Linked DNA regions of Homo sapiens: all the other regions are linked to region 2. A link means that fine-mapping ties the variant in region 2 to the plasma level of a protein whose gene starts in the linked region. Region 2 holds a variant in brackets. A gene starts in each other region. All regions are shown on their reverse strands.

Region 1 (8,164 bases), not on the chromosome of region 2:
AGCAAACAGATCTAGATGAAGCCACTTTGAGGAAGGAGACCGTAGATCAGGCACACCCCACAGCTGTGCATGATGTTCAGTCTCTTTCTGTGCCCACAGCTTGTTGCCTCTGTGAGGAGGTATAAGCACTCCCCTTCCCCGCTTCCATGACCCTTTCCAGTGACCATTCAGTGGACACCTTCCTGCCCTCCCCCTACAGTCCCAGTCAATTGTCACCTCCTTCCTCACCAGAAGGGCAGGTCCTCCCCTCACCACCATGTGCCCCCTCCCCAACCACCCGTGCCTCAGTAAGGCCTTGACTTCCTTCTGCAGCCATGAGACCAGGAAGGGCAGGGTGGCAGGATGAGTCCAGAGGTCAGGGCCCAAGGCCTGGCCTTTCTGGCTTGCCCCCGAGACTCTGGATGGCGCAGACAGAATATGAGCTTTGGGGTCAGGCTGTGACCACTTCTGGGATCTGGCACTTCTTGTGTGACCCTGAGCAAGTGACCTAACCCTGCTGAGCCTCCACTTCCACAGCTGGACAACCCAGCTCCCAGGCTTGTGGGGACACCTAGGTGGCCATAAACTATTGTGTCTGGTACCAGGCAGGCACTCACTGGCTGCTTCTGTAAGAAGGGTGGCAAGGGAAGGGGCGGAATTGCCATTCACTCACTCAATCCTGGGGGCTGGGTTTGCTGAGCTTTTGCCTTGGGCTGCAGGCGTGTTGTAGCCAGAGGCTGGAAGGTGGGAGAAGGGGAGGGAGGACAGCAGGGTCCTAGAGGAAAGGGAAAGGCTGCTCTCAGGGGTGGCACCGCTCTGAACCCCTTTTCCTTCCTTGGGAGCAGCTGGCAGTTTTCCTACCCCCCACCTCAGCACAGAGCACTGCCATCTTTCGCCTCGGCCAACCAGGAGCCACGTGGCGGGTTCCAGCAGATCCCTGGTCTTCTACTCCTGCAGCCCCCTGGCCTCGCGCCTAGCTCAGAGCCTCAAACCCACCTGCCTCTCAGCCTGCTTCTTCCCTGCCACCCTTCACACTACTCCAGTTTTGTCTCAAAAGTCTGTGTTGGATCCCATCCCTCTCTGCCTTAGAACAGTCACTGGCTCTCCATTGCCTAAAAGCCAAAGTTCAAACTTTTTAGTATGCCTTTCGAGGCCTCTTAAACTCAGGCTTCAGGCCGGGTGTGGTGGCTCACACTTGTAATCTCAGCATTTTGGGAGGCCAAGGCTGGTGGATCACGTGAGGTCAGGAGTTCGAGACCAGCCTGGCCAACACGGTGAAACCCCCTCTCTACTAAAAATACAAAATTAGCTGGGTATGGTGGAGCATGCCTGTAATCCCAGCTACTTGGGAGGCTGAGGCAGGAGAATTGCTTGAACCCGGGAGGGAGAGGTTGCGGTGATTGCAGTGAGCCAAGATTGCGCCACTGCACTCCAGCCTGGGCAACAACAGCAAAACTTCGTCTCTAAAAAAAAAAAAAAGCAAAGAACAAAACTCAGGCTTTGAGGCTTTGAACCACCTTGTCAGCTTCGCCTCTTTCTCTGTTCGGTGCTCCAGCCATAGAGTCATCCTCTATTCCCGACTAAACCAGCCTCCTGCCCACCTCCGTGCCTTGGACATGCTGTTCCTCTGTGTGCGATGCCTTTCCTTTCCATCTCTGCCTAAAGCACTTCTTTCTGTCCTTCAGCACAAGCTCAAGGTCAACTCCTCTGTAATGTCTTCCCTGGAAGCAGCGAATCTCTTTTTCCTCTGTGCACTCACAGTCCCCTGTGCGTGCCTCCAGTGGCGCTAATGCTCACTTACACTGCAATTTCTTGTGTACTGGGTCTCCCTGCTAGGCTGAGACTCCTTAAAGGCAAGATGCCTATCCTCTTGGGAGGCCAAGGCAGGCAGCTCACAAGGTCAGGAGATCGAGACCATCCTGGCTAACACGTGAAACCCTGTCTCTACTAAAAATACAAAAAATTAGCCGAGATCGCGCCACTGCACTCCAGCCTGGGCGACAGAGCGAGACTCCGTCTCAAAAAAAAAAAAAAAAAAAAAAAAAATTCCTGTCCTCTGTGCCCAGCACAGTGGGCAGAAGCCTGATGCAACCAACTCCCCAGGAGCTACTCCGGTCCCCACTTCCCCAAGTCCATCTGTCACTTCCCCAGTCCTTGCTGACTGTGTGCCATCCTGGACTCTCCCTCTTTCTCCACCACTTTCTCTTCTACAGATTGAGTATCCCCTATCCAAAAATGCTTGGGAACAGAAGTGTTTCAGATTTCAGAATATTTGCATTATATCTGCCGATTCAGCATCCCTAATCCAGGAATCTGAAATCCAAAATGCCCCAGTGAGCATTTCCTTTGTGTGTGTGATGCTGGCACACAAAAAGTTTCGGACTTTGGAGTATTTTGCATTTTTGGATTAGGGATACTCAATCTGTAACACTAGGTCAGTTTATTCTTGGATTTTTCTAAGTAGATGATCAAATCTTTTGCAAATACAGAGTATTTATCTTTTCCTTTCCAACATTTATACTTCTTCTTCTTTTTTTTTTTTTTTTTTTTTTTGAGACTGAGTCTGGCTCTGTTGACCAGGCTGGAGTGCAGTGGCACGATCTTGGCTCACTGCAACCTCCGCCTCCCGGGTTGAAGCAATTCTCTGCCTCAGCCTCCTGAGTAGCTGGGATTACAGGCACCTGCCACTATGCCCGGCTAATTTTTATATTTTTAGTAGAGACGGGGTTTCACCATTTTGGCCAGGCTGGTCTTGAACTCCTGACCTCGTGATCCACCCGCCTTGACCTCCCAAAGTGCTGGGATTACAGGCGTGAGCCACCATGCCGGGACTTATACTTCTTAATCTTGCATATTTCATTGCCTAGGGCCTTCAGGCAAAGATGAATAAAAGAAAATGATAGTAGGCTGGCTGGGCACAGTGGCTTCTGCCAGTAATCTCAGCACTTTGAGAGGCTGAGGCAGGCAGATGGCTTGAGTCCAGAAGTTTGAGACCAGACAGGCCAATATGGCGAAACCACATCTTAAAAAAAAAACAAAAAACCAAAATGTAGCCAGGCATAGTGACTTGTGCCTGTGGTCCCAGCTACTCTGGAGGCTGAGGTAGGAGGATTACTTGAGCCTGGGAGGCAGAGGTTGTAATGAGCCAAGATTGTGTCACTGCACTCCCGTCTGGATGACAGAGTGAGACCCCATCTCAGAAAAATGAATGAATGAATGAATGAATGAATGAATAAAAATAAATAAATAAAAAGAAAAGAAATGATAGTGGCTACATTTGTCTTTTTCTGACTTTCTTAGAAATTCTTCTCATGGTTCACCATACTCAATGGTGTGCTGGAGATGGCTCGCACTGACTCACAAGAGCTCACTGTTAACTTTTCAGGAGTTGGTGAGATCGTGTTAAACTGTCGATGGCTGGAAATTGGCCATGGGAATTGGACCACAGAAATGGACACCACAGAAATTGGAAAACACCACAAAATGACAGCATCCCCAGCCTGTTAAACATTTACCAGCACATCACTGTCGTCAGTCTTCTTCATTTTCAACATCCCAACTGCCATCAGAGAGAGGCCAATAGAGTCCGATATAGGACGATAATATAGCAATACACATGTCATACACAAATAAAGAATTACAAATGAGGGTAAACCTAAAACACAAGCGAACTTGATCATAACTGGTAGAAATGACATGTGAACACTGATAAGAATTGGAAGAGATAAGAGAATCTTGTAAATAATGAAGAACAGATTCAATGTGGTTCGATGCTGCTGCTATTTGGCAAGTTTAACTTTATTTCCTCAAATTAAAGATCCATGGATAAAGGAATAAAAAAAAAATAGGGGCTATGGTGGTAGGGATGGGCCTGGGATTGGGATAGGTCCCAGCTATGGGGCTAGGAGAGGAATAAAGCAGACATCAAAGCTGGAAACGACTTGTGTTTGAATCCCAGTTCCATCACTTCCTGCTGTGAGATCTTGGGCAAATCACTTAGTCTCTTGGAGCCTCAGTCCCTCATCCGTGAAATGGGGATACAAAGATGTACCTCGCCCACACTGGCCAGCAGACCAAGGCTCCCACTCCCCTGGGCCCTCTCTGGCTTCTTTCTCCTTAGCTCAGCAGGTCCACTTGGGGTTCTGGGCTCCCAGAGAGGTGCTTTATCCCCTACCCAGGCCCCATAGCTCCAGCCCCGGCCCCCTAGTGTCCCTGCATTTAACGATCCCTCCTTCAGGCATCCTACCCAGAGGCTGGTTCCCAGGCACTCTAGCACCTGTGGCTGGACTTCAATATCTGGGGAGGTGGAGGCCAGGAGGGGAGAGTTGAGGGCACAAGCAGGGCGAGGCCAGCATGTCCAGGGTGATGCTGTGGGCTGGGTCTGGAATGCAGCAATGGTTGGCCCAGCCTCGGGAGGCCTCAGGAATATCTCTGACACCAGGCGAGGAGTCTTCTTTATCCCCTGATATGTCTATCTTGTACCCAGCCTATGGAAATCTCCCTCCAGCACACCTGGGCAGAAAGGAAAGGCGCCGAGCCCAGCCCTGGACAGATCTGGGTCCGGTCCTGCTCTGACATCTACTACTGGTGTGACCTCGGGCAGCAAGAGTGAGACAATGGCCAAGACTCAGGCGGCTCCTTCTGTGCCCCAAGCCTTGCTCGGTGCTTGACCTGCATGATCTCCCTGAGGACTCAGTGCCCATAATGTTGGTACCAGGATTATGCCCCACCACCCCTCCCTCTTCCCTCTGCAGCTCCTGTCCCCAGCCTGGGGAAGGAGAGATATCTGTTACCTGGAAAGACGAACAGAGAGATCAGTAAAGACTCATCGGGGCCCCGTTTTTCGACCCCACACCAGTACTCCCCAGCGTCTTGCAGGGTGAGGTTCCACAGGGTCACAATGAGCGAGAGCTCCTGGCGGCTGTCACGGATGGACACCCTGCCCTTCATTGTCTCCTGGCCTTCTTCTTCTGCATAGATGGTGCCAGAGCAGCGAGAGAAGAGGATCCCACCCTTCCTGCACCAGTACTTCCGGTGGTCCCTCAGCTCTTCCCTGTAGGTGCACTGCAGGGACACAGTGTCCCCTTCGAACCCGCTGATTTCCTCTGGGCCCTCCAGGGCTTCATAACCTAAAATCAGAGCAGGAGTGGAGGTTGGAAAAACCAGGCTCCATGTACCAAGGTCAAGGCCAGAGCTTCCATTTTAGGAGGAAGAAGGAAGGCTTTTCTCAGTCATCCCTTCTGGGGACAGCCTTGGAAGAGCCATTACTAACCTCCCACGCTGGGGGAACTTGGGGCAGGGCTGTTGCTGTTTCCCTAACCCTGGCCCATTGAGGAATTGGGGTGCAGGGGTGGCGTTCTAGATTCAGATAGAATCTGACAGCCAGATAGCCAGCAGGGTTTCTGAGTGTTTTGTTTTGTTTTGTTTGTTTGTTTGTTTGTTTTTGAGATGGAGTCTCACTTTGCCGCCCAGGCTGGAGTGCAGTGGCCCGATGTCTGCTCACTGAAACTTCTGCCTCCCGGGTTCAGGTGATTCTCCTGCCTCAGCCTCCTGAGTACCTGGGACTACAGCCACGTGCTGCCATGCCCGGCTAATTTTTTGTATTTTTAGTAGAGACGGGGTTTCACCGTGTTAGCCAGGATGGTCTTGATCTCCTGACCTTGTGATCCGTCCGCCTCAGCCTCCCAAAGAGCTTGGATTACAGGCGTGAGCCACCGTGCCTGGTTTTGTTTTGTTTTTAGACAGGATCTCACTCTGTTGCCCAGGCTGGAGGGCAATGGTGCTCATGGCTCACTGTAGCCTTGACCTCTGGGGCTCAAGCGATCCTCCCACCTTAGCCTCCCACTAGCTAGGACTACAAGTGTGCACCACCATGCCTGGCTAATTTTGTTTGTTTGTTTGTTTGTTTGTTTGTAGAGATGGGGTCTCACTATTGCCAACTGAACAACTGACATCAGTTGTAGGATTTATCCTGATTTTAAGTGTTAGAAGGTAAAGAAAAAGAAAGCAAAAGAATTGATGAAACGTGATAATTCTTCATCTTTCAGGGTTGTGGGGAGAGGCATAGCCGAAATTCAACAAATATTTGCTGAGTTTAACAGGGCAACCAGATGGGGTGTCTTGTCCGCCTCCAGGCTTGGCACAGGGTAGAAAAATTAAGATTAGAGAGGCAAAGCAACTCTCACAGCCACATTGCCATGAGGGGAAACCCACAGGTCTGGAGAAAACCTGGCTCTAGGTTCCAGAAACAGCAAGTGCGGCCCCGGCGCCACCCCCACCTCCCCCCACCCCCAGCCCGCCCCGCTCCCCTAGGGCTGAGGAGGCTGAGGATAGGTGGGGTGGGGCTATCAGTCAGTCAAGAGGTCCTTTCCCTGCAGACCACAAGGGTGAGCCCCACATCCCTCCCGAGACCCTCTCCCCATCTCACCTGGGAGCAGCAGGCAACCCCATAGCAGGACCAGAAGCCGCATTCTGGGCGCTGGACACCGTGGGAGCAGACGCTGGGAACTGTGAGCTCCTCTTCAGTCACACGGGTCTTTAACTTTCTCTAGTCGCGTGAAACCAGGCCAAGGAAGCGAGGGGAGGGGCGTGTGGGTCATCCCTCCGCAGGCCCAGCCGGGGAGGCGCCTCTGCCTTCCCTTTTCTGAGCGCCCACGCGTGCCTACCCCAGGGCTCACCTTCCAGGACTGAAAACCCACACCAGAGTTTCTCCTAAACTCGTGCCCCTTCAAGGGGGCCTTAACCTGTGGTCCGTGCGCCCTAAGGGGTCTGTAAGTCGAATTCGCATGGGAAAAAGTTACATATTGACTTTCATCAACTTCTAATATTTAGCTTTTCCTCTTATTCAGAGTGTACTGTTAGCAGTACCTGCAACTTTGTTACCAATTACAATCACAGACACTGGCACATCAAGTTGTGGATATCTCGAAACGTCGTGTATACCCCTCACTGCTTGGAAAACAATGAGTTCCTAGACCTGCCCCTAGAGCTGGTTATTTACAATAATGAAACGGCTATTATTATATTACACATTTATAAAGAGTTTTAAGAATCATCTCACCAGTATTAGTTTTCTTTCCAGCATATATATTTTATTTATATATTTACCCGCCATTATACTGAGAGAGGGGTCCATAAACTTCACCAGACTGCCATGTGGTCAGTGGGACAGAAAGAAGCTTGCCCCTGGGGCAAGGCCCCTGGCCCCTCCTCCGCCCTTGCCTTTTGGAGGACGCAGTACTGCCCTTGGCCACGGGGCGGCGGTGCAGACGGGGCTGAGCAAAGCTGTAGGGCTGAGCTGGACCGGATTCCCTGGTGCCTTGGGCCTACAGCGCTGCAAGATAGGTCTCCTCCACGCCTGCGGAGTTGTTTTGGCATTTGAAAAAGTGAATTGGTGGTTTCTCCATCGCAGACTTGAATCCTCCTTGAAAGGACCAAAACAAACATGTACACTACTGGGAGCTCTGACACACTGGCTTCAAAAATGACTTTTTTTTTGGTTTGGTTGCAAAGTTCATACAGGTTGTAAGCAAAATTTTACACAATACAGAACGTAAAAAGGAAAGAAAGAAAAAAGGGAGTGCTTCTTGTAATTCCCCTTCTGCTTTAGAAAAGCACCATTAATATTTTGGCATATATCCTTCCAAATGTTCAGTTGGAATTTTACTGACTTGTCAGGTTAATATCTGAAGCATTAACTCAGTGGTTCTGGGAGGGAAGATTGTGTGTGTGTGAGTCTAGTAACGTGGGGAGAAGTGTTTTAATTTCACAATGACTGCGAAGCACTGCTGCCATTTAGTGGGCAGGGCCAGCTGTTCACGGTGGGGAAAACTGTTACCATGATCTCAGCCCCTGACTCTCTTTTACATGTACAGACTACAAAAGGTGATCTGTTTTTGCAGTTTTAAAAAAACACAGATTAAAAAATATTTATGGCCCAGCATGGTGGCTCACGCCTGTCATCCCAGCACTTTGGGAGGCTGAGGCGGGTGGATCACCTGAAGTCGGGAGTTTGAGACCAGCCTGACCAACATGGAGAAACCCAGTCTCTACTAAAAATATAAAATTAGCCAGGCATGGTGGTGTATGCCTGTAATCCCAGCTACTCAGGGAGGCTGAGGCAGGAGAATCGCTTGAACCCAGAAGGTGGAGGTTGTGGTGAGCTGAGATCACACCATTGCACTCC
Region 2 (8,163 bases):
TGGGAAGACGCCCGTTGCCAGGTGGACCATGGTCTAGCAGTAGCAAAAAGTATCAAGGAACAACACCCGCTACTTAGCAGACCGGGAAAGGGAGTGTCCCTTTCCCTGGAGGAGTTTAGAGAAGACTCTGCTCTTCCACCTCTTGTGGAGGGCCTGACATCCGGCAGGCCTGCCCGCAGTTATCTGGAGGCCTAACCGTCTCCCTGTGATGCTGTGCTTCAGTGGTCACGCTCCTAGTCCGCCTTCATGTTCCATCCTGTACACCTGGCTCTGCCTTCTAGATAGCAGTAGTAAATTAGTGAAAGTACTAAAAGTCTCTGATATGCAGAAGTAATGGCATAAGCTGTCTTTCTCTCTGTCTCCTCTCTCTCTCTGCCTCGGCTGCCAGGCAGGGAAGGGCACCCTGTCCAGTGGACACGTGATCCACGTGACCTTACCTATCATTGGAGATGACTCACACTCTTTACCCTGCCCCTTTTGCTTTGTATCCAATAAATAACAATGCAGCCAGACATTCGGGGCCACTACCGGTCTCCGAGCATTGGTAGTAGTGGTCTCCCGGGCCCAGCTGCCTTTTCTTTTATCTCTTTGTCTTGTGTGTGTATTTCTACACTCTCTCATTGCTGCACACAGGGAGGGAGAGACCCACGGACCCTGTGGGGCTGGTCCCTACAAATACCAATGTCAAGATTTTAGACAATAATAAACCAAGTTTAGCAAAGTGCCACACTGGATTTAATTCAGAATTGCAAAGCAGTTTCAATGCCAGAGAATCAAGAGTGTAATTCATATCAATAGATTAAAGGAGCAAAACCCACGTGACCATCTCAATGGTTGCAGAACAGGAACACAGTAAATGACGCGACAGCCATTTATAACGAGTTTTTAGCAAACTAGGAATTAAGGTATTTCCTTACTCTGATAAGGGGATTTGGAGCCAGGCATGGACCCATCTTGAAACTACATTCTGGGTCAGGCAAATGTAGATGTATTGGAGGGAAAGACATCCCCATGGGTTCCCAAGAGGTGAAGTCATCATAGTGAACTAAGGGGCCAGTGAGGGTCTGGAAAAGGCCACTGCCATCACCTGGCTACAGAGACTGAAGAGGCGGGGGGGGGTCTCGTCCTGAGCAGAGACAGGACAACTGGGTGGGCCAGTGAGGGCTGCAGGTGGGGGAAGCTGAGAACCCAGCAATATTTTACTGCCACTGGATGTCTGCACAAGGAACCTATGCCAGCCAGGGAGGTTGAGAGTGAGGCTCAGTGGGGACTGGCATACTGGCTGAGTGGATGCAGTCATTGAGCAACGCATGTCATGCATGGCGTGGGCCATCACTCTGCTGGGTGAAAGTTTCAGGAGCGAATGAGACCCAGCCCTAGCTCTCAAGGAACCCATAGTCTCATAGGTAGTGGTCCTGCAAAGTGGCCAGGGAAAGGATCGGGGTGCAGGGTGCTGAAGTCACATGGAAAGTTGTGAACGTTGCCGGTACCAAAATGGAGTCACTTATGTCAAACTAAAACAGTTGGAGGTGATGAAGCAGCCCTCACGCACACATTCCTGCAACAGGACTTACCACAAGACATTTCTACAAACAGACCAATAACAGGACTCACTGCAAGACCATCCTCAACGGTTGCAGTATTCCAGATAAGCTGCTATTCCCAAATCCATTTATTTTAGAGAGTCTATCTCTGGATTTCTTCATAGGTTGACTGTGTCATGTAGGATTCAGTATAGTGA[A/G]CAAAGATTGGGGAAAGGCAGACCCCAGGCAGAAGATCAGAGGCAAGGGGGACAGTCATGCATTTGTAAGGTCTAAAAAGTTCAGTCTGCTTTTGTGATACCTGACGAATTTTCATATGTTGTGTTTTCATTCAGTTCAAAATACTTGCTAATTTCCCTTTGATTTATTCTTTGGCTAATGAGTTATTTAAAGGTATGTCATTTAGTTTCCAAATATTTGGGAATTTACCAGAGATCTTTCTGTTACTGATTTCTAGTTGAATTTCATTGTGGTCAGAGAACATACTTTGTATAACTTGAGTCCTTGGCTGGGGCGTGGTGGCTCACACCTGTAATCCCGATACTGGGAGGCTGAGGCAGGAGGATCATTTGAGCCCAGGAGATTGAGGTCAGCCTGGGCAATGCAGCGAGACCCTGTCTCTACAAAAAAATTTAAAAAATCACCCTGGGGCGGTTGCCCACGCCTATGCCTATAGTCCCAGCTACTCAGAAAGCTGAGGTGGGAGGATCACTTGAGCCCAGGAGGTTGAGGCTGCAGTGAGCCATGTTCCTGCCACTGCACTCCAGCCTGGGCAACAGAGTGAGACCGTGTATCAAAAAACAACAAAAAACCACTTGAATCTTTTTGAAGTTAACAGGGTTTGTTTCATAGCCCAGACTGTGGTCTCTCCTGGTAAATGTTCTGTGTGTGCTCGAGAAGAATGTTTTCTGCTCTTGTTGAGTCAAGTGTTTTAATGTCAGGTCCAGTGGAGTTCAAGTTCTGTATCCTTGCCAATTTTCTTTTCTTTTTTCTTTCTTTCTTTCTTTTTTTTTTCTTGAGACAGAGTTTTGCTCTTGTTGCCCAGGCTGGAGTGCAATGGCGCGGTCTTGGCTCACTGCAACCTCTGTCTCCTGGGTTCAAGCAGTTCTCCTGTCAGCCTCCTGAGTAGCTGAGATTACAGGCATGCGCCACCATGCCCGGCTAATTTTGTATTTTTAATAGAGATGGGGTTTCTCCATGTTGGTCAGGCTGGTCTCGAACTCCCGACCTCAGGTGATCTGCCTTCCTCGGCCTCCCAAAGTGCTGGGATTACAGGCGTGAGCCACTGCACCTGGTGCCAATTTTCTATCTATTCATTCTGTCAATTATTGCACTTCATCAAAAATTAAAAATTAGGAAAACAGATAAAAAGGCTCACAGTGGGAGAAAATATTTGTAAAACATACAGTATAATAAAGGACTTGTGGCCGGGCGTGGTGCCTCACTCCTGTAATCCCAGCACTTTGGGAGGCCGAGGCAGGTGGATCACTTGAGCTCAGGAGTTCAAGACCAGCCCGACCAAGATGGTGAAATCCATCTCTACTAAAAATATAAAAATTAGCCGGGCGTGGTGGCAGGTGCCTGTAATCCCAGCTACTTGGGAGGCTGAGACAGGAGAATCACTTGAACCTGGGAAACGGAGGTTGCAGTGAGCCGAGCTGTCGCCACTGCACTCCAGCCTGGAAGACAGAGCAAGACTCCATCTCAAAAAATAGTAAATAAATAAATAAATAAAATGGCATAACCATTTTGAAGGTTCGTTTTTGCATAAAGATGTCCAGTGTTCCAGGACCAGTTGCTGAAAAGACTGTCTTCGTAGAATTGCCCTTGTACCTTCATCTGAAATCAATTGGCCATAAATCTGTGTAGGTCTATTTCTAAACTGTGTGTTCTGTTCCCCTGAACCTTTCGCCAGCGCCACACCGTCTTAATCACTGCAGCTCTATAGTAAGTGTTGAAATCGGGTAGCATGAGTCTTCCAACTTTGTTCTTTTTGAAATTGTTTTATTTCACATTTACTACATATAGTCATTACTTAATCTGCATTTGCTCTTAAAAAATGTAGCTCTTCTGGTTTTTAGGAAGGCTTGATTTTTTTTGGGTCTAGTTGCTACTTACTGTTCATACCCTTAAATAATATCTTTAGTCCCCTCAACCTTTAAAAGAGTTCTCATAGTTCCCTACTATGAAATAATTTGTAAACCTTTCCCCTCTCTCCCTTCTCTCTCTTTTCTACCACCCATGGTTTTTTTTGTTTTTTTTTTTGAGACAGGCCTCGCTCTGTCACCCAGGCTGGAGTGGAATGGCGCCATCTCAGCTCACTGCAACCTCTACCTCCCAGGTTCAGGCGATTCTCCTGCTCCAGCCTCCCTAGTAGCTGGGATTACAGATGCGCGCCACCAAGCCTGGCTAATTTTTGTATTTTTAGTAGAGATGGATTTCACCATGTTGGCCAGGCTGGTCTCGAACTCCTGACCTCAGGTGATCCACCTGCCTCGGCCTCCCAAAGTGCTGGGATTACAGGTGTGAGCCACCATGCCCGGCCCACCCATTTTTTGAATGAATACTATTATATTTCTTAGTATTTGCCTCTGTCCTCTTTAATATGCTAAACTTCTCAGTTTGTCAGCATTAAGTGATGTCTTTAGAATCCAACTATAATATGAAGGAATCAGCAGGGCGATTCTATTTTCCATCCTCTCTCTGCTTTCTTGTCTCATACTGTTATAGCTGCCTTTGTAAAATTGTTTTTTTACACATTCTGTTACCTTTGTGTATGAGTTTGCTAGGGCTGCCATTAACAAAGCACCGCAGAGCAGCTTAGGTGAGAGGAATTCATTGTTCACAGCTCTGGAGGGCAGGGGTCCAGTCCAGACATCAGCAGGGTTGGTTTCTTCTGAGGACCCTGAGTGAAGGCTGTTCCTGGGTGCTGTCCTTGGCCTGCAAACAGCATCCTCTCATCTTCCCCCTGTGCCTGTCTGTGGGTCCTGATTGCCTCTTCTTATAATAAGGACACCAGTCACATTGGATTAGAGCCCACCTTAGTGACCTCATCTTAACTAATAACATTTGCAGTGACACCATTTCCAAACAAGGTCACGTTCTGTGGTGCTTGGGGTTAAGACATCAGTGTGTGGATTTGGCAGGGAACACACCGTACGTACCCATCACAACTTGCTGCTGTTTTTATCTCGGTCCCTGTCCTCTAGTTGAATATGTGAGTGCTCACTCCCTGTTCCTCTTACTATCTGTGATCATCTCTCAGTTAACTAAAATTCACTCTAGTACAGCGGTACTTTTGACCAACATTTTTTGCCCCAGTGACTGGTTTCTTGGAAGACAATTTTTCCATGGACAGTAGGGGTGGTGGGAGGGATGGTTTGGGGATGAAACTGTGCCACTTCAGATCATCAGGCATTAGATTTTCATTAGGAGTGAGCAACCTAGATCCCTCGCATGCGCAGTTCACAGTAGGGTTTGCACTTCTATGAAGATCTAATGCCACCGCTGATCTGACAGGAGGCAAAGCTCAGCAGTAATGCTCCGCCTCAATTCGTTTGTTTTAGCAAAGTTGTCTGGACTTCTACCTTGGAGTCTGTCCTGTCTTGGCTCTGCCCTGCCAGCCAAGGACCTGCCTGCTGCTGCCTCCCCACCGCTGCTTCCCCTGCTGCTGCCTCCCCCGCCACCGCCTCTCCTGCCTGCTTGCTCTGCTGCTGTTGTGCCTCTTCACGTCCCTGTTTCTTCCTGGCTGCACTTTCCACAGCATCTCTAGACTTGTGTCTGTGGCCTTTGCTTCCAGTCCTTCCTAAGTTCCACCAGCACCTGTCCACCTGTTCTTCCTGGGGCCGCAGAGTTCCCCATGGCCATTTCCGCTGCAGCCACTCCCCTGGCCACTTCCCCAGCTGCATCATGGGGCTGCCCGCTGGCTTGCCACTTTCACTTGGCTTTGTGGCAGTGGTTTTCTCTGTGTTTTCTTCATCTGCAGGGAAGTCTTGCTGTTCCCTTTTTGTTTGTTTGTTTTTGAGACAGGGTCTTGCTTTGTTGCCTGGGCTGGAGTGCAGTGACATAGTCACAACTCACTGCAGTCTTGACCTCCTGGGCTTAAGCGATCCTCCCGCCTCAGCCTCCCAAAGTGCTGGGATTCAGGAGTGAGCACTGCACTGGCCACCCGCTCCTTTTAGGTTTCTTTTTTCCCTCTGGTATCTTTGGGTGGATATTGATACTCATATTTGGATGAATTGGGTTTCCTGGATTGGGAGGGTGGGGCTGGCAGAGCCCAGAGTATAACTTTTCTGGTTTTGAGCCTGCCCCTCTCCTGACGTGCAGTAGCCTCTAGTATGGGCTGCCTCTGTGGCAGGGCAGGCTGAGTGCCGGAGCCCAGTAGGGCCAGGAGCGCCTCCACCACCATCCACAAGATCCCCTCTTATCTGGAAGTGGAGTGTCCACCCAGCACCCATGCCCCACTTCCGTGTGTGTTTCCGCAGCTCCACTCCCTGCTGGTGTTCAGCCCCTTCCCAGCAGTCCCATTCAGGCTAGGGCCTTCTCCTTCTGGGGTGTGACCCTGAGGGTTTCCTGTTCCCACCTCCTCCCGGCTTTCTCCACGCTCCCGCTGCCCCCCGACACCTGTTCACCCTCGGGACTCCATGCATAGTCTGCTTGTCTTTAAAATATAATAATTATTTTTTGGACACAGGGTCTCCCTGCGTTGCCCAGGCTGGAGTGCAGTGGCTCTTCACAGGTGCAATTATACTGCACTGCGGCCACAAACTCCTGGCCTCAAGCGATCCTCCCACCTCAGCCTCCCAAGTAGCTGAGACCACAAGTGCATGCTATTAAGCCTGGCTTAAAAAACAACGTATTTATTGAAAATTTGAGGTTCAGTAAGGCCACCAGATCAGGAGATAATTGCCATTGAAAGGATAGTTTACGACAGTTTCCAGGAGAAGGGGTACCCCAAGCCACACAGGGCCACACGGGGAAGTGCTGGAGTCGGTCAGGAGGCAGGAGAGGGCAGAACTGTGGGTGAAGCCCGTAATGTGGTTTCCATGGGAGGGGGTGGGCGAGGCGGTAGGGAGGCTTAGGCTTGGCTCATTTGAATGATTTCAGCGCGCTCTGGGGTGTAACACCTGCATGCTCAGTGAGCTCCTCGAGGAATCCCCCGTATCGCTGCAGTAATTCCCGTATACGCCTTGTGAGGGCTGCACACAGGCTGTAGTGGCCCTTCTGCAGCTCAGCGTGGATGGCTTCTCCAGGGTCAGCCAGAAGCAGTGGGGTCAGAGCGAAAACCAGGGCTTCCTGGCTGTGACGCATGTGCCTTCAGCCACTGAGCTGCCCTGCTTACCCCACAGGAATTGGGAAGACATCAGGGAGGGCTTACTGGGGAAGGTGAGCATCAACCTTGACCCTGAACGATGGGAAAATTAGGATGGCAGAAAAGGGCATTCAAGAAAGGAAGAATTGGCCAGGCACAGTGGCTCACGCCTGTAATCCCAACACTTGGGGAGGCCGAGGCGGGCGGATCACCTGAGGTCAGGAGTTCAAGACCAGCCTGGCTAACATGGTGAAACCCCATCTCTACTGAAAATACAAAAAATTAGCCAGGTGTGGTGGCAGGCGCCTAATCCCTGCTGCTTGGGAGACTGAGGCAGGAGAATCACTTGAACCAGGGAGGCGGAAGTTGCAGTGAGCTGAGATCCCACCATTGCACTCCAGCCTGGGCGACAGAGTGAAACTCCATCTCAAAAAAAAAAAAAAAAAAAAGATACAAAAATTAGCCAGATGCGGTGGCACATGCCTGTAGTTCCAGCTACTTGGGAGGCTGAGACAGGAGAATCGCTTGAACCAGGACGGGGAGGTTGCAGTGAGCCTAGATCATGCCACTGCACTCCAGCCTGGGTGACAGAGTGAGACTCCAACCCCCTCCCCCCGCAAAAAAGGAAGAATTATATATATGATTATTATATATTATATACATATTACATGTACTATATAGAGAGATGATACATAGATATAGATCTATAAACAGATGGGATCTTGCTATGTTGGTCTTGAACTCCTGGCCTCAAGCAATTCTCCTGTCTCGGCCTCCCAAAGTGCTGGGATTACCAGCGTGAGCCACTGCTCCTGGTCAAGAGAGGAAGAATTTTTTGTTTTCTCAAACAAAGGAAGGGAAGGTTCTGACACGTGGGAAGTTTCCCCAGGGACGGAGTCCCTGTAAGGACAACGGGGCCGCGCAGAGCCTGGACGCTCAGGCCAAGGACTGACATGTCCCCAGAGCAGAAGGGCTGTGTCTGAGTCCCCGGTGAGGGTCGTGAGGACAGAAGACTCAAGCCCAGCAATACAGGCTGGGGCAAAAACACAGACGGGGTGGTCAACTGCGGGACAGAGATCAGCAGGAACTGTGGCTGTGCTGGCAGGATCCACTAACTACATAAAGTCATCAGTAAACATGGACAGTACATTTTTTATTTTTTTGAAATGGACTCTTGTTCTGTCACCCAGAATGGAGTGCAGTGGTGCGATCTCAGCTCACTGCAACCTCTGTCTCCCAGGTGCAAGCGATGCTCCTGCCTCAGCCTCCTGAGTGGCTATTACAGGTGCACACCACCACACCCGGCTAATT
Region 3 (8,180 bases), not on the chromosome of region 2:
GATGACTCTCTTGATTGGGGGAAGAAGGAGACATACAAATAAACAAATAACTGTAAAGTGTGACAAATGGTGAAAAGTACAATAAAAAAGAAACAAATGAAAGGTAAAGTGGGAAAGAGTGCTGAGGTGAGATAGGTTTGCTATTTTATTAAAGAGTGGTCAGGCAGGGCCTCCCACAGGAGGTGGCATTTTAGCAGAAATATGATAGAGTGAGGGAATGAAGGAAGAGTAGGGGAGGTAGAGGCAACACCAGATAGAAAGGTCCTGTGACAGGAAAGCCTTGATGTCTTAGGGCAGTGGTCCTAAACTTGAGCATCAGAGTCCCTTGGAAGGCTTGGTCAACACCCGTTGATGAGCCCCCACCGTTGGATTTCTGGTCCATTAAGTCTGGGGTGAGGCCTGAGAATGTTCATTCCTAACAAGTTTCCTGGTGATGCCGATGCTGCTGGCTTGGGGACAACACATCGAAAATCACTTCCTTAGAGGAGTAGCTGTGCAGTCAGGGTGGCTGGAAAGCTCAAGTAGGAAGGGGAAGAGTAGTCAGGGGCAGATTGACTCACACTCTGATGTGCATAGAAACCACTTGGGTCTGTCAAAATGAAGATGCTAATTCTGTAGGTCTGGGGTGGATCCTCAAATGCTGCATTTCTAAGAGAAAGCTCTTGAGTGACACAGATCACTTTGGCCTGTGGACCACACTTTGGGAATCAAGGCTCTAGGGCCTTTACTTTATGTTGAAGGAGAAGTCATTAGATGGTTGGAGCAGAGAAATGACATGATCTGAAGGATATTAAAAGGAGAGCTCTATGTTGTGCAGAATAGTCTTTAGGGAGCAAAGGCAGAAAGGGAAGCACAGTTATGAGGCCTGTCAAAGGACCAGCCCAGACATGAGGTGGCTGACCAAGGTAGGGGCAGTAAAAGTGCTGAAAAGTCTCAACTGTAGTATGATTTGAAAGTAGATCTAGGCCAGGCGTGGTGGCTCATGCCTGTAATCTCAGCACTTTGGGAGGCTAAGGTGGGCGGATCACAAGGTCTTGAGTTCAAGACCAGCCTAGCCAACATAGAGAAACCCCATCTCTACTAAAAATAGAAAAACTAGCCTGGCATGGTGGTGGGCACCTATAATCCCAGCTACTCGGGAGGCTGAGGCAGGAGACTCGCTTGAACCCAGGAGGCGGAGGTTGCAGTGAGCCGAGATGGCACCACTGCACTCGAGCCTGGGTGACATAGCAACACTCCATCTCAGGAGAAAAGAAAAGAAAAGAGAAAAAAGAAAAGTAGATCGAGTAGATCGAATAACATTTGCTGACAGATTGTGTGTCAGGTGTGAGAGAAAAGCAAGAGTTAGGGGCAACTCTAACATTCTGAGCCGAAAATCTAGAAGGAGTGAGTCACATTTACTGAAATGAAAAGGACTGAGAGGAGCAGGTCTTGGGATGGAGGATAAGAAACGTTTACTCAGCCTTGTGAGGCAAAAAGAAGATGGTAAAAAGGTGGCAATTTTCTCTATATGATTTTCCCAATTTATGGTGTTAGAATCTGGCCATATGGCTAACCCAATCAATCCTGGTGGTTTGGTTGAAATGGCCTAAAAAGAAGATTTACATGGTAATGAGATTTCTCCACTGGGGTCAAGGATCAGAGGTGGTGGTGGGCCTAAAGAGTACAAAATGGCAAAGAGGTAAATAATTAATTTTTATTAGATAAATAATGATGAGATTAGAAAAACTCTAATTCTAATCCCATTTCTGTTGTAAAATACAGCAGATTCTCTGAACTGTTTACACAATGGCTAACTCTAAAGAGAGATATTTTAGTGCCTGGCTCTGAAGTCTTGGGACCCATTTATGCATTCACCCATTTACCTTCCTAAACTATTTCTGCTCTGCCTATGCAGCCATTCTCCAGCTATTCCAATTAAATATCAACTAACTGGCTTCTCTGTGAGTGAGACAAAGCCAGAAAAATTGACCCTTAGTTATTGGTATGTTAGTTTTGTAGCCTTCAGATAGCACTGAGCTATTAAGGTATGGGCTACAAGATCTGGAAGTAAGCCCCATCACTGCTACCTATGATCTTGAGCAAGTCACTCTACCCATGAGAAGCCACCTGTCGCTTCCCAAAAAAATGAAAACAGCACTTACTCCACGACAAGACTGGACAAATAAATATGCAATTGCATATAAAAGCTTTTGTAAACTGAAGGTACTTATTATCATGAATAGCTCTGCTTCCACAAATCCTGACCTAAGACACTGGGAATGCAGAGGCTTCTCTCTCATTTCAGAAGCAGGACAACAGAGAGAAAACAGAGATGATGACTCAGCTTCTCTCTCCTCTCAGTAATGGATGAGACTGATGAATTTCTTCAAGAAATATATTTGTAAATGAGATGTCTAAGTGGAGATTGCTTTACACTCACCCCTAAGTCTCAACCGAGGAGTTGTTAGTGAATATGATGGGCCAGTGGAGGGGTTGGGTTTTGTTTCCCCACTAAATATAACCAGAGGCTTATTCTTATATTTTTCTTTAACAATCGGAATAATTATCTATTTGCTTTCCTTTTCCTCCAAATACAAATTGGAAAAATAAAATTTTTATAAAGAGAAACTTGTTACATATTTCTAGATCCATTGAGGACTTCCTAGCTCTCCTAGAAAGTCTGGTCTAACTATCTTCTCTTTCCGCATTTTTATCTTTCAGAAAATGCAATTTCTCACAAAGCACCAAAAAATATTTCTCCCCCAGAGAATCACAATACAGTATTAGGAAGGAAAGTGTTCAGTAATCCCACCACTGGGTTTCAAGTAATTTCAAGACTTTAATAACACAAAAATTGAACTCACCTAAATTGATTTCTGAAATATCCTTCTGTTCACCAAAATCTGCATCATGTACTGTTAAAAGTGAGAAAAAAAATTATTATTAGTCTTGCCGAAGGAAAAAAGTTCAAAAACACTCTCTGTGCATTTGAACTAATTCTTACCATTTTCTTCAGGAAGATACTTAATCTGAAAAAAATAAATATACAGAAAATGGATAATGTATACTAGAATTAATATTTCTAAATATCCAAAAAGCAGGACTCGACTTACCGGTACAGCTGCTATGTGGGCAAAAAGCAAGGTAAAAAAGAGAATGCAAGTGGATCTAATCCAAGCCATTGCTGCAAGTGAGCTGATTTTAGCACACACCTTGTCATAAATACCGTTTAGACTTTACCCTGACGGTCGTATTAGAAACTTTGACCCTTCCATATGTACCGTAGTGCCAATAAAGGTTGTCAAAGATAACATCATTGACTCTTTCGAGGACAAACACTAAGTTTACCTTAAATGCTTAAGCTCCAAAGACTGGGGAAAAGTTTGAAAAATTAATACGGAAATGAGCATATAAGAACTAATAACATTCCTATAGGGCAGCCATAGCCATTCATATCATAAAACAGGATAGACGATCCCCTTAACAATAAAAATAAAAATAATTTATAAAATTATTATTATTTAATTCTAATAAAATATAAATTCAAATTTTATGGAAATGTTATAAAGCAATTATTGAAGGACATAAAAATACCTGACTCTCTCTCTATATGTACATATGTATGAAATATTAATAGATTGTTTTAATATTAATCTATAAATTCATTGTCATTCTAGTAAAAAATCTAACAGGGTTTTCAGTGGAACTTGCCAAGCTGACAAATGGTTCAATTCGCATGAAAGAGTAAACATTGAAGAATAGATAAGAAAATTCTGAAAAGGCTGAATAAAGAGAAAAGAATTGCCTCAAAAGAATATCAGGAGCTTTGGTAAAGTTACAGTAATTAGAGTGTAATAGTTCCAAAAATAAAGATAAAATGAATCTATAGACTGGAATAGGTAATATCCAAATAGATGCAAGCATATGCAGGGCTTTTATGTATAAGAGGAACCAAAAAGGCAAGAGGGAAACTTGGGTCTCTTTCATAATAATGTGGGAATAATTGCATTTCCATATGAGGAAATACATTAAATGTACACCTGATACCATTGACAAAAATAAATTCTAGATAGATTAAAAATTTAAATATGAAAATATAAACTTCAAAAAAGAAAATATAGGAACATATTTTTAACCTTTAGGTCAAGAAAGATTGCTTAAACATGAAAAAAACATAGAAATTACAGAGGAAAAGAATAATACATTTGACTGTATCAAAATTTAAACTTCTTTATGACAAAAACATAACATGATTAAAAGACAAGCCACAGGTGAGAGATGATATGTATACTGCATATAATTGAATAAGAATAAGTATTCAGGATATGTAAAGAATTTCTACAAATCAATAAAAAGAACAGGAGATTATCTAAGGAAAAAATGAACAAAAAATATGAGTAGCAAATTCACAAAAGACCCAGATGGCCAATAAATATGTAAAAAGATTTTTAGCCTCGTAAGTAATCAGAAAAATTATAGGTTCAAATAGCAGTAAAATACCACCTCAAGCTAAGATTGGCATAAATTAAGAAGACTGACAATATCAAGTGTCAACAAGAAGGTAAGAAAATAGGAAATCTAGTAGGACATCAATTTGATGCTATCTAATGAAGTTGAAATGTGCACAGTTCATAAGATAGAAACTTCACTTCTAGGTCTATATGCTAAAGGAACTCACACATATGTGCACAAAATTCCACATAGCATATTCATTGAAGTTTTTTTGTTATGGTAAAGAATGGGGAAAATGTGTTTATACTAAAAGAAAAGATAAATTATGGAATATATTCAGCCATGCACAGGTAAATGTTTAATAATCGGCTCTTTTAAAAAAAGTAAAAACAAACAAGCAAACAAACAAAACCAAGCCTTTATTTGTAGTGTTTGTTGATTGCCATGGTCAATTTCAAGCTACCAACACCATGTCACTGAATGCAGTGTTGGGAAGAGATGTACACAGTGGGCTCCATCTGCGCCAGCACAATACTAAATATATGCACACACCCACCTATTCTTGCCTGCACCAGATATAAGAATCTTTGGCATTAGAGCAATCTTCAAGGTCTAGAGCCTGCATCTCTCTACCTCAGACTTACTACTGGGCAGGTGGGCTAGTCCTGCTGTCAAAAAAGCATTTCCTGTCACAAAAGACTTTTAGAAGGTGAACAGTAGAGCTTCTTGAGCTGTAAAATAGGAGGCATGTCAACTGGGGGCCTGCTTCTGATGGGCAGAAGCGTTCTATGGCTGATTTTTGTTTTACCTAAGCCACTGATGGTGAGGTGATAAAAGGCCATCTTCCACCGTCTCTAACCATTACAAACCACTAATATTATTTTTTAAACGAAACAAAACAAAACAAAAAGCCAAATTTGCCCAACAGCCGCAATGACTTAAGTGAGCAACTACAATCTAGACCATTTAAAAATTGGGCAATAATCAAATTTTAAAACTGGCCAACATCGTAAGAATAATTGGCTTTAAGTATCAGTGTGGAAAACATATGAGACTTTTATTTCTTAAATGTGTTGTTTAATTTTTCTCAAATTCTGAAGCAATTATGGTAAAACTGAATATTTGGTAAAACTGAATATTTGTTAATCTTGGAAACCAGGAAGTAGGAGTTTGTTATTTTATTTTCTAAAGAAAAAGGCAGTGCTGTTGCTTTGGTACACCTCTCTACTAAATCTCAGGTATCAGGATTTCAAACAGGGAATAGTGAGGCTGTTTAATTCTCTCCACCTTCTCTTGCTTCCAGCCAGATGTGTTTTTATCTTTCCCTGCCTTCTTAAACTTATCTGAATGATATACTACAACAATGGCTTTGGAATCAGATAAGCAGGAACTCCACCTCTACCATTGACTAGCTACAGTAATTTTAGTACCTGCTTTTTATGTGTAGAATGGATAGTGGTGCCTACTTCATGGGGCCAATGTAAAGATTCAATGAGATAACATATGTAAACCACAGCTACTAGAAACATAGGAAGCACTCAATAAACTGCTCCTTCTACCTGCTAGTTAGCAACTGCCTCCTAGCAAAACATGGGCACTAAAAACACAGCTCAGCCCACTCCTTGCTCAGTAGAATCTCCAGTGATGAGAACATAGGTCTTCAGCAGACACAACTTGCCCCCAATTATTTTATTGTCACAATCTTAATGGCAGATGTTAATTAGTTACCAGCTATTTGCAATCCTAGTCACTTCTTCATTGTGTCAGGGTATCAAATGAGTAAGGCTGGGGCCTTAAGTCCTTCATTTGAAGGGTTTATGGCTTTTCAGTTTAAAGAAGATTATGCACTCTGTGGTCAAGGTCCATGCTTTATTTCCTGTATTTGCCCCAGTGTTTGGAAACATAGTAGGTAATTAGTTCTCATTTTAACTGAAAAAAGTAAATAGAAATTTCTCTGAAGGTATCGGATGGGGTGACTTGCTTTGATCTCAGGAAGGGCATTTCATAAACTGACCAGTTGAGAAAGTGGTCTGAAGCTTAGAGGAAGAAAGCCATTGACAGGTAGAAAATGGAAAAACCCGCCCCCAGCTATTTCCACACACTCTCCAGCTTCATAAAAGCTCAGGCAAGGAGTTGGGCTAAGAGACTTGCAAAGTCCTCTCACCCCAAACCCTTCTCAAGGATGTTCTCTGCCCTCTTTCTACTCTATTGCAAGATGCTGATTCCTTCTGCTTCACTCACAGAGTTCTGCCTTCAACCAGCTGTCAGCTAACCTGAAACACAACAGTCCTTGTTCCTCCCAGGGCAATCAACATATTAACAGGGGCCCAAAGGTGTATAGAGCAAGAGTCGGCAAACTGTCTGTAAAGGGCAAAGAGATATATGTCAAGCATTGTGGGCCATATGAGCCCTGTTGTAGCTATGTAACTCTCCTGTTGTATGTAGCATAAAGTAGCTGTAGACAATAATGTAAAGGTGTGAACATGGCTGTGTTCCAATAAAACTTTATTCACAAAAACAAAGCAAAGGGTCATAGTTTGCTGACCCCTGGGTTTTAGAGAATAACCCTCAAGGTGGTGGAAATTGAGACGGTGATAATAATTATAACAGAAGCAGTAGCAGCAACCAACATGTACATAGTACTTACTGTGGGCCAGGCAGTATTCCAAGTATCTAAGGGTAATTATCCATTCAATCCTCACAACAATCCTACGAAGAAGCAACTATTATTATCTCCATTTTATATATTAAGAAACTGAGATGAAGAAAAATTAAGGAACCTTCTCAAGGTCATGCAGATCCTGAACAATGCTCCTAAATTCCACCTGAGAGGCAGTTCTTTACACCTATGTCTGGCCTTTGACAGCCCAGGAGTGAGGCCTCCACCATTATGCTGTAGCATGCAGACCCCTGGTTTCACAGGGTTCCATCTCTAACAGTTTACTAAGAAGAATTAACCCTGAGGGAAACAGTTCCCAAGCTATAGATTCCTTCAAAATCCTCTGGATGGTTTGTTGAGGTACAAATTTCTTGGCTTGGAATTTGGAAATCCTGACTCACGTCAAATGGTGAGTTCCAGAGATCTGCATTTTTAATAAGCACCCTTGTGACTCTGATGCAGGTAGTCTGTGGAACACACTTTGATGAACAGGACACTGTGGAATTTGCATCAGTCAGATGCTTCCACTCTCACTGTGGTTATCGAATAGCTTTCCTCTGATTCCCTTTGTATAAGAAAATCAAAAGATCATAGAACCTTCAGTTTCCTAATAGGGAATACATCAGATGTTAAGAATTCGAGAGATCATCAACACAGAAGTCCATTTCAGAAGGCCTCCAGGAAACAGCCCCTCTGCAGTGTGGTTTGAGGACCTGCATTTTTAACAAGCTTGGGGGTTATTTCTATATGGAAAATGTGAGACCTGCTGACCTGGGCAGGCAACTGTGTTTTGGAGTGTGTACAGACACCAATCCCAATTGGTGAGGCAAGGGGTACTTCTTACTCAGCTGGGCACTGAGGACCCTAATAAGCCACTCTTTAGGGCCAGGTGGGCATTCAATGGATTTGGTTCCAGCCTTTTCTCTTTTATAGAACCCAAAGAACACATTGTTATCTTTCTCTTATGACACAAGGAAGAATCAGACAAGCAGCTTACTTTATGTTTTCCCAATTCTCTTTCTACTTATCGAACCCTCATAAAGTATTTAAACTGAAGCCAACTCAGCTATGAGCTACAAGATTGTCC

Direction of the effects. Positions count from the first base shown, and alleles are read on the strand shown. Strength reflects both the effect of a copy and how common the allele is.
With allele A in place of G in region 2, the plasma level of the protein whose gene starts at base 6,490 in region 1 is lower (strong association).
As copies of G replace A in region 2, the plasma level of the protein whose gene starts at base 3,174 in region 3 goes up (strong association).

Evidence for each region. PIP is the chance, under the fine-mapping model, that this variant and not a neighbour inherited with it causes the effect. The UK Biobank Pharma Proteomics Project read protein levels with antibody pairs (Olink). The fine-mapping took linkage between variants from a reference panel, not from the people measured, so its PIPs are less certain.
Region 1: CD300LG starts here. The variant in region 2 is fine-mapped to the plasma level of the CD300LG protein (UK Biobank, PIP above 0.99).
Region 3: MEP1A starts here. The variant in region 2 is fine-mapped to the plasma level of the MEP1A protein (UK Biobank, PIP above 0.99).

What each region holds. Positions count from the first base shown.
Region 1 is chr17:43,845,502-43,853,665 of GRCh38, reverse strand. It overlaps CD300LG (CD300 molecule like family member g), which reads right to left and starts at 6,490. Exons shown (of 7, transcript NM_145273.4): 1 at 6,407-6,490; 2 at 4,773-5,108; 3 at 653-754. The coding sequence starts at 6,449. LOC107984979 (a long non-coding RNA gene) reads right to left here. Exons shown (of 3, transcript XR_001753057.2): 3 at 7,191-7,402. It overlaps LOC107985077 (a long non-coding RNA gene), which reads left to right. Exons shown (of 2, transcript XR_001752896.2): 2 at 3,365-3,916.
Region 2 is chr9:133,321,337-133,329,499 of GRCh38, reverse strand. SURF6 (surfeit 6) reads left to right here. Exons shown (of 5, transcript NM_006753.6): 5 at 1-724. Among named protein-coding and RNA genes, the nearest start is that of SURF6, 11 kb to the left of the region's middle. The variant A/G (reference allele first, on the strand shown) is at 1,742.
Region 3 is chr6:46,788,383-46,796,562 of GRCh38, reverse strand. MEP1A (meprin A subunit alpha) reads right to left here and starts at 3,174. Exons shown (of 14, transcript NM_005588.3): 1 at 3,096-3,174; 2 at 2,987-3,011; 3 at 2,847-2,897. The coding sequence starts at 3,164.